2 linked regions of the Homo sapiens genome follow. The protein of the gene in region 1 purifies or fractionates together with the protein of each later gene. This does not show direct contact. Each region holds a gene or a part of one and is shown on either strand. Other genes may lie near its edges.

What was found. The genes of interacting proteins can lie anywhere in the genome.
Region 2: the proteins of CEP43 (region 1) and PPP2R3C purify together in Homo sapiens (affinity purification with mass spectrometry; 5 studies listed by BioGRID and IntAct, with this or other methods). This does not show direct contact.

Annotation. Positions count from the first base shown.
Region 1 is NC_000006.12:167,023,269-167,027,020, forward strand, and holds part of CEP43 (centrosomal protein 43), read left to right. Parts: intron 1-1,513; coding exon 1,514-1,626; intron 1,627-3,278; coding exon 3,279-3,347; intron 3,348-3,752. UniProt on the Homo sapiens protein: Required for anchoring microtubules to the centrosomes. Required for ciliation.
Region 2 is NC_000014.9:35,115,251-35,119,002, forward strand, and holds part of PPP2R3C (serine/threonine-protein phosphatase 2A regulatory subunit B'' subunit gamma), read right to left. Parts: intron 1,488-3,752; coding exon 1,360-1,487; intron 1-1,359. UniProt on the Homo sapiens protein: May regulate MCM3AP phosphorylation through phosphatase recruitment. May act as a negative regulator of ABCB1 expression and function through the dephosphorylation of ABCB1 by TFPI2/PPP2R3C complex.

The DNA.
Region 1 (3,752 bases):
GCGTACATTACAGAAGGATCCTGAGGTTGCTGGGGAAGGTTGGTCTTAGAGTTTCCAGTTAGGAGGCCGTTAATGATGGAAAAGGATTTGCCAGTAAGTGCTAGAGAAAAGTAATATACAGAGTGGCATCATGGTTTTTAGCCTGCAAAACTAGAAGGTTGGAAACACGTTAGATGAAGAGTGGCAAGAGCAAGAGTGGATTACACAGACAGGTGGCATGACAGCCTGGAGGCCCCTGTTGCTGTGCTAAGTTAGAGAAGATTGCTAGTGGAAATCCAAAGTAGGCTATTGAGTGTATGCGTTGGGATTGATGGAGAGGTCTGAGCTGGAGATGTAAATTAGGAGTCATCAGTTTGTAGATAATGTGGGGTGTGGGAGACTACAGAGGATCACCAAGGAAGCAGGTCCTGCGCACCTTGAGGCCAGAGCAGGGAGCTAGAAGCAGCAGAGGAGATGGAACCAGGAGAGTGGTGTCTGTGGAGGTGGCGGTAGGGAGGAGTAGCTGTATGATGCCGTTGGATTTAGCCATCTGGAGGTCAGTGATGACCTTGACACAGTTTTGTTGGAATGGGGGTGCGAGGCAGGTTAGAGAATTAGAGTGCATTCAAGACAGACAGGAAAGGATTGTAGATGAAAAATAGTTTTCTGATGAGTTGTAAAAGTGTGCAGAGGAGCAGGGTGGTGGCTGGAGGGGCAGGATTTAGGGCTGAAAAACGTGTTTAGGTGGGAGAAATAACAGCATGTATGCTGACGAGAGCTGTTCAGCTTTAAAGATGGAAGAATTAATGATGTAAGGGAGTGAGAGGAGAACTGGAGGGCTGCGCAGCAGTGGAATCCCATGCAGGGGCTTGTGTTTGCTGGAAAAGTGGAGAGCGTGTGGGTCTCATTGTAGGCAGGGGGTGGATATGATGGTGGCACCTGTGCAAGCTGTCACCTGAGTTCATAGTTGAGTGAGGATGGAGGACGGAGGTTGGAGATAAGAGGAGAGTGGAGAAAGCATGAAATCTTTCTATAAGAAAGTAAGGCGAGAAGGCACTGTGGAAACCCGGAGGGTTGTTGGGCAGTTTTAAAGGTCCCCTTGAGGTTAGTGGTCATGACTTTAAGGGGAGTTCATCAGCATGGCTGTTAGTGGCTTCTGTAAGCAATATTAAATCTGAGAGGTGGCACTTATTTGCTAGTAAACTCCTGTATTGTCCCTTGGCTGCATGTCTGGGTAATGGAAAAGGGCTTCCGAAAAAAATCACAGTGAAGAGGTCAATTTAGTTTATATCAAACAGAATTCTAAAGAGAGGTGAGCTGATTTCTTACGCCCTGGCTGTGCCGATTGTGGTTGATCTGTAGTTTGCACTCCCTTGGTGTACTTTATGGTTTTGAATCTTTAAAGTGTATATTCTTGATTTCCAGCCACCACACGTATAAAATATCTTTAAGTTGCTTTTGTTTCTGTGGCAGAATAAAAGTGTTTAGTGGCAGAACATAAGAGCACCGATTAACTGTCCTTGTTTCTTGTTAGGAGGAAGGAACCTAGGAAGCAAGCAGGAAGTCTGGCCTCGCTCTCGGATGCACCCCCCTTAAAAAGTGGACTCAGCTCCCTGGCGGGAGCCCCTTCTTTAAAAGACTCTGAGAGTAAGTGCCCAAAGATGTGGACTTCAATACTCGGGATATTTTTTCTCTAATTAAATACTATGTGATTATTGTTGATTTTTTTTCCCAGGAAAATCACTAAAATAACCTATCATTTTATCACTCAGAGATATTTCCTGTTAATATTTTGTTGTGTTTTGTTACTTCTAAGGTGGTCCTATTTTATATGTTGTTTTGTATTCTGGCCCTTCCTATACCTATATACCATCGGAATACTTTTGGGAAGTTGACTTTTTAGCTGATTTTTATTATCTATAGAAATAAAATTTTTAAATCATCTCTCCTTTTTTGGACATTTACAATGACTTGAGTTGGATTTGCTTTCAATTAATTTTTAAAAATTTGGTGATACCACAGTAAGTATCATAAAATGTTAAATAAAAAATTATTCTGCAGATCATTTTCAAGAACAGTGACCTGACATGTCATCGTAAATGCAGCAGAGCTAAAGAGCACTGGTTACACATGGAATAGTCTAGCTCTGGCACCAGTTACTTTCCCACCTCTCCCCACACACAGTGATAGGAATTTAAAAAGCATAGCCCTGAACATGTAGGATGGGCAGAGGTCCTTTGGAAACCGTATCATAGTAAATGTTGTATTTAATTAGCGTAGTGTTTCAGAGCACGTGTACCTCTTTTGAGAAAGTTTCCTAAAGTAGATTCACTAAGAATTTGCAGTATGCGTTTTGCATAATTGTCCAGTATTTCCGAATCTTTTTGTATTGCTTGATATACTGTGGGACTTCCTAGGGCACATAAGAGAGCCGGCCTGTTGCTTCTCTTAAACCAGCCATGTATTTATAATGTCCGCATCCCTTCCCATTTGCTTCTTTCCCGTGGTTACTGCCACCTTTAAGAAAGGAATCCAGGACATCATGAACATGTCATTCTGACATTGATTAGAGAATGATCATTTAGAGAGGACGTTGAGAACAAAGGACTAAAAAACCAGTGAGGATGTCACTTTAGTAAGTGAAATAGCAGTTGCACTGAAGAAAAATTTAGAAATTCAAAGGAAAAATAAGACTCATGAAAATAATTAACAGTCTATGAATTCATACCTAACAGGGCTGTTTATGGAAAGTGATGTCTTATAATGAGGCAAAAAATGGTTTTTGGTGGTTGTGTTCCAATAAAGTAGTATTGTTTATGGTTTAAAAAGGGATGTAGCTGGGTGCAGTGGCTCACGCCTGTAATACCAGCACTTTGGGAGGCCGAGGTGGGTGGATCACGAGGTCAGGAGTTCGAGACCAGCCTATCCAACATAGGGAAACCCTGTCTCTACTAAAAATACAAAAATTAGCTGGGTGTGGTAGCACATGCCTGTAGTCCCAGCTACTCGGGAGGCTGAGGCGGGAGAATCGCTTGAACCCAGAAGGCAGAGGTTGCAGTGAGCTGAGACCGCGCCATTGCACTCCAGCCTGAGTGACAGTGATGAGACTCCGTCTCAAAAAAAGGGTTGTGATGCATAGCTTAAGCGTTCATTAATCACAGTTTATTTTTTCCTTAGTTTTAGGTTATTATGCTCCTGTCATAAAGAAGCCCCATATTGAACAACGACAAAAATTGATGTGGTTTAGAGACTGTTATATTCTAAGTCACTCTAATGTTAATATTTTCTCCTGTTCACAGGTAAAAGGGGAAATACAGTTTTGAAAGATCTGAAATTGATCAGTGATAAAATTGGATCACTTGGATTAGGTAATTAGATTTCTAGTTTTTGTGCTGATCGTTTTAAAGTGATTATTTTTAGGGTAAGGCTGTAAAAGAAGTGACTCCGTCTGCCTACGCTGAGCACCTTCCTGCTGCTGCTCATTCAGCAGGTGTTTGAATGGCTTTTATGTGTTCAGGATTACACGCTATGCGAGAGATGGCTACAGCAACAGCCATCATGTTCTCGTGAACCTCTGTCTTCATGGAGTTTAAATTCTGGTCAGGAATATGAACATTAAACGGGCATCTACAGATATTTTGACTGTAAAAGGGTCAGTATATATGGGTATAGAAATGGCTAGTAGGTTACCTTTGTCCAGTCTTGGCATTCAGGGAAGACTTCTTATAAGAAGTGACTTCTGTGCAGAAGCTTCATGGTTAAGTACATGTATA
Region 2 (3,752 bases), on another chromosome or scaffold:
CTCCTGAGCTCAAGCGATCCTTCCACCTCAGCCTCCTGAGTAGCGGGGACTACAGGTGCGCACCACCATGCCCGGCTAAGTTTTTTTTGGAGAGACACGATCTCACCAAGTTGCCCAGACTGGTTCTCAAACTCCTGGCCTCAAGTGATCCTCCTGATTTGATGGCCTCCCAAAGTGACAGGATTATAGGTGTGAGTCACCACACCTGGCCAACATTTTTTTTTTGAGACAGGGTCTTTGCTCTATCACCCAGGCTGGAGTGCAGTGACCCTACCATGAATAGCTTTTCTTAAGGTCTATTTTGTCTATACGTCCCTTCATAGCCATTTTCAGAGTTTTGGCACAAGGAAAAAATAATCAAGTGAAATTCCTTTTTTGTTTGTTTGTTTGAGACAGAGCCTTGCTCTGTCACCCAGGCTGGAGTGCAGTGGCGCGATCTGGGCTCACTACAACCTCCACCTCCTGGGTTCAAGTGATTCTCCTGCCTCAGCCTCCTGAGTAGCTAGGATTACCGGCGCGCGCCACCACGCCTGGCTAATTTTTGTATTTTGAGTAGAGACAGGGTTTCACCATGTTGGTCAGGCTGGTCTCGAACTCCTGACCTCATGATCCACCACCCACCTTGGCCTCCCAAAGTGTTGGGATTACAGGCATGAGCCACCATGCCTGGCCTCAAGTGAAATTCTTTAGGTTTTCCATAATCTATTTTTCGGTTTAGCCTTGAGCAAAATTTTAAAACTTTATAACAAAGTGTATACCTGATAACATAATCCAATAGAATACTTACTACTAATATCTATAATAAAAATCAGAAAGAAAAAGCCCACAGTTTAACAACTTTGTGTTTACATACCCACTTAAATCTAAACTTGGGATTTTATTGGGCTCAAAATGTTTTATAATAGTGATAAGATCAATTACAATAAAATAATATATAAAATTTAAAATATAATTCTCTATTTTTAAAACATAAAATTCTGGTCCTATTTTTAAAACTACTTTTTTTTCTGGGGGTGGGGAGGACAGGGTCTAACTCTGTTACCCAGGCTGGAGTGCAGTGACACAATCACGGCTCACTGCTGCCTCGATCTCCTGGGCTCAAGTAATCCTCCTGCTTCAGCCTCCTGAGAAGCTAGGACTACAGGCATGCATCACCATGTCCAGCTATTTTTTAAAAAATTTCTTTTAGAGATGGGATCTTGCTATGTTGCCCTGGCTGGTCTCAAATTCCTGGACTCAAGTGATCCTCCCGCCTCAGCCTCCCAAAGTGTTGGGATTACAGGTATGAGCCACCCTGCCTTGCCAAAAATTATATTTCATTTTTAAACTCTGCAGGACATTTGATTAGACACTACTTACCCTATAATAAAACCGGGGAATGGTCTTATAGAATTCATTTGTGTTTTTTCTACCTCCTTTCCATTCGGAGTAATATTTTGTAAATAAATCCATTTCTTCATCTTTTAATTCTTGTTCACTTTTTTTTTCTGGTAACAAAACAGATTAAGGGGAGCACTTTTAAAATCAAGCAGTACTTTTACTCAGGTCATCCTATATATTATATTAATAGTTTAATTAAAATAGTTGCAGTGCCAAAAAGGCCTTCACAATTGTGCTTAGACACTGAGCATATTAACTTTTCTGAAATACCAAGAATCACTACCCTCTACTGAAGCAGCCTCCTCTACATCTTCAACCATTTCTCATGCTCCCTCTACTTCTGTTTATCGCTAAAGCTAGTCTCTTCCTCAAATTACCTCTCCTACAGAACTCTGTAGAGTGCTCCTAATTCATTCAATGAAAAGAATTTACTGAGCACCTACTATGTACAGAGAACGCTGTAGTAGACACGGAATGAGGGGTGAGCAAGACAGCCCCAGCCCCTGACCTCATGGAGTTTCAGCCTCATAATCACTGTTTCTCTACCTAATGTAGAGAAAACAAACAAAAAAACTCATCCTCTGTCTGAAGCTCAAAACTCAGGGCTCTATTACCCTGCAACTCGCCTGCTATTGGCACGTGGCTGTCTCATTCAGCCAATTCCTCCCCACTTATTTGTGGACTATGGTGACTGGTACACAGTGTTCTTCACAAGGTCCTGCAATCATTTAGGATGAATAAACATTTATGTGGGTGACCATGGGTCCTGCAACTCCAAAGACTTTCACCTCTAGTTCATTCTGCCATTTGGTTCTATGACAAGATCACAGATTTTACTTGATCCCTTTCTGAAATCTTAAGCTCAAATATACTCTCAGATCATCCTTTCTGGTAATTCAAAACCTCACTGCCATACCATTTCCACTTCAGCCTCACTGAGCTCTTGAATTCTGTGATCTATTTTCTCAAAAGTTATTTTACTCTTTCTGGTCTCATTTCCTTCCCAACAAGCCTGTAATTGTTTCCTTGAATTCCTTTTATGACTGCATTTCTGCTGCATCTGTTAATTTTTTTTTTTTTGGAGATGGAGCTTCACTCTTGTTGCCCAGGCTGGGGCGCAATGGTACGATCTCGGGTCACGGCAACCTCCGCCTCCCAGGTTCAAGGGATTCTCCTGCCTCAGCCTCCTGAGTGGCTGGGATTACGGGCATGTGCCACCACGCCTGGCTAATTTTGTATTTTTAGTAGAGATGGGGCTTCTCCATGTTGGTCAGGCTGGTCTTGAACTCCTGACCTCAGGTGATCTGCCCACCTCGGCCTCCCAAAGTGCTGGGATTACAGGCATGAGCCACCATGCCTGGCCTATTATGTTAATTTTTAACCTTAGACCAAACCTATAAGTTAATTTCTTTACTATGGCTCAGTGCTGTTGTAGAAAACTGCAAAATTTTTCAAGCAAAGTCAAGACTGACAACTGACCACTGAAGTTAACAATATAGCAGTCACTGATGATTCTTGACAAGCAGGAATTCGAGACGAGTACAGATTTAACCAACAACTGTTTTAACAAATATTGCTATAAGGGGAACAGAAAAATGAGGAATGGCTAGAGGTGGAAATTAAGTCAAGAAAGTTTAAGATGGGAGAAATACCAGCATGTTTATATGCTGATGGGAATGATTAAAGAAAAACTGATGATACAGGAGAAGGGACAACTGCAAGAGTACATCCTTCAGCAGGCAAAAATGGAATCTACTACAAAGGATAGGATCTAGTACACTGATGAAGGAACCAGACTTACGCAGGTGCTGTACAACCTATATAATTTACTTATTATTTTATTATTTCTCTCCACACTAAAGTGTAAGTTCTACAAAGACAGAGATTTTTTTGTGTTCTGCTATAAGCTACAACGGTACTTGGCACAAAACAGGCATGCAATAAATATCTGCTAAAAGAATGCAGTGGGTTTAAGAGTTAAGGGGTCAAGAAAGCACACAAAGTACAAGTACAGGTACCTTCCTTTTTTTTTTTTTTTTTTCCGAGACTGAGTCTCACTGTCACCCAGGCTGGAGGGCAGTGGCGCGATCTTGGCTCACTGCAAACTTCACCTCCTGGGTTGAAGTGATTCTCCTGCCTCAGCCTCCTGAGTAGCTGGGATTACAGACACTTGCCACAATGCCCGGCTAAATTTTGTATTTTTAGTAGAGAGAGCGTTTCACCACGTTGGCCAGGCTGGTCTGTCTCCTGACCTCAGGTGATCCACCCACTTCAGCCTCCCAAAGTGCTGGGATTACAGGCATGAGCCACTGCGCCCAGCCAAGTACAGGTAACTTCTTTGAGAAGTTTTCCTATGAAGAGTGCAGAGAAAT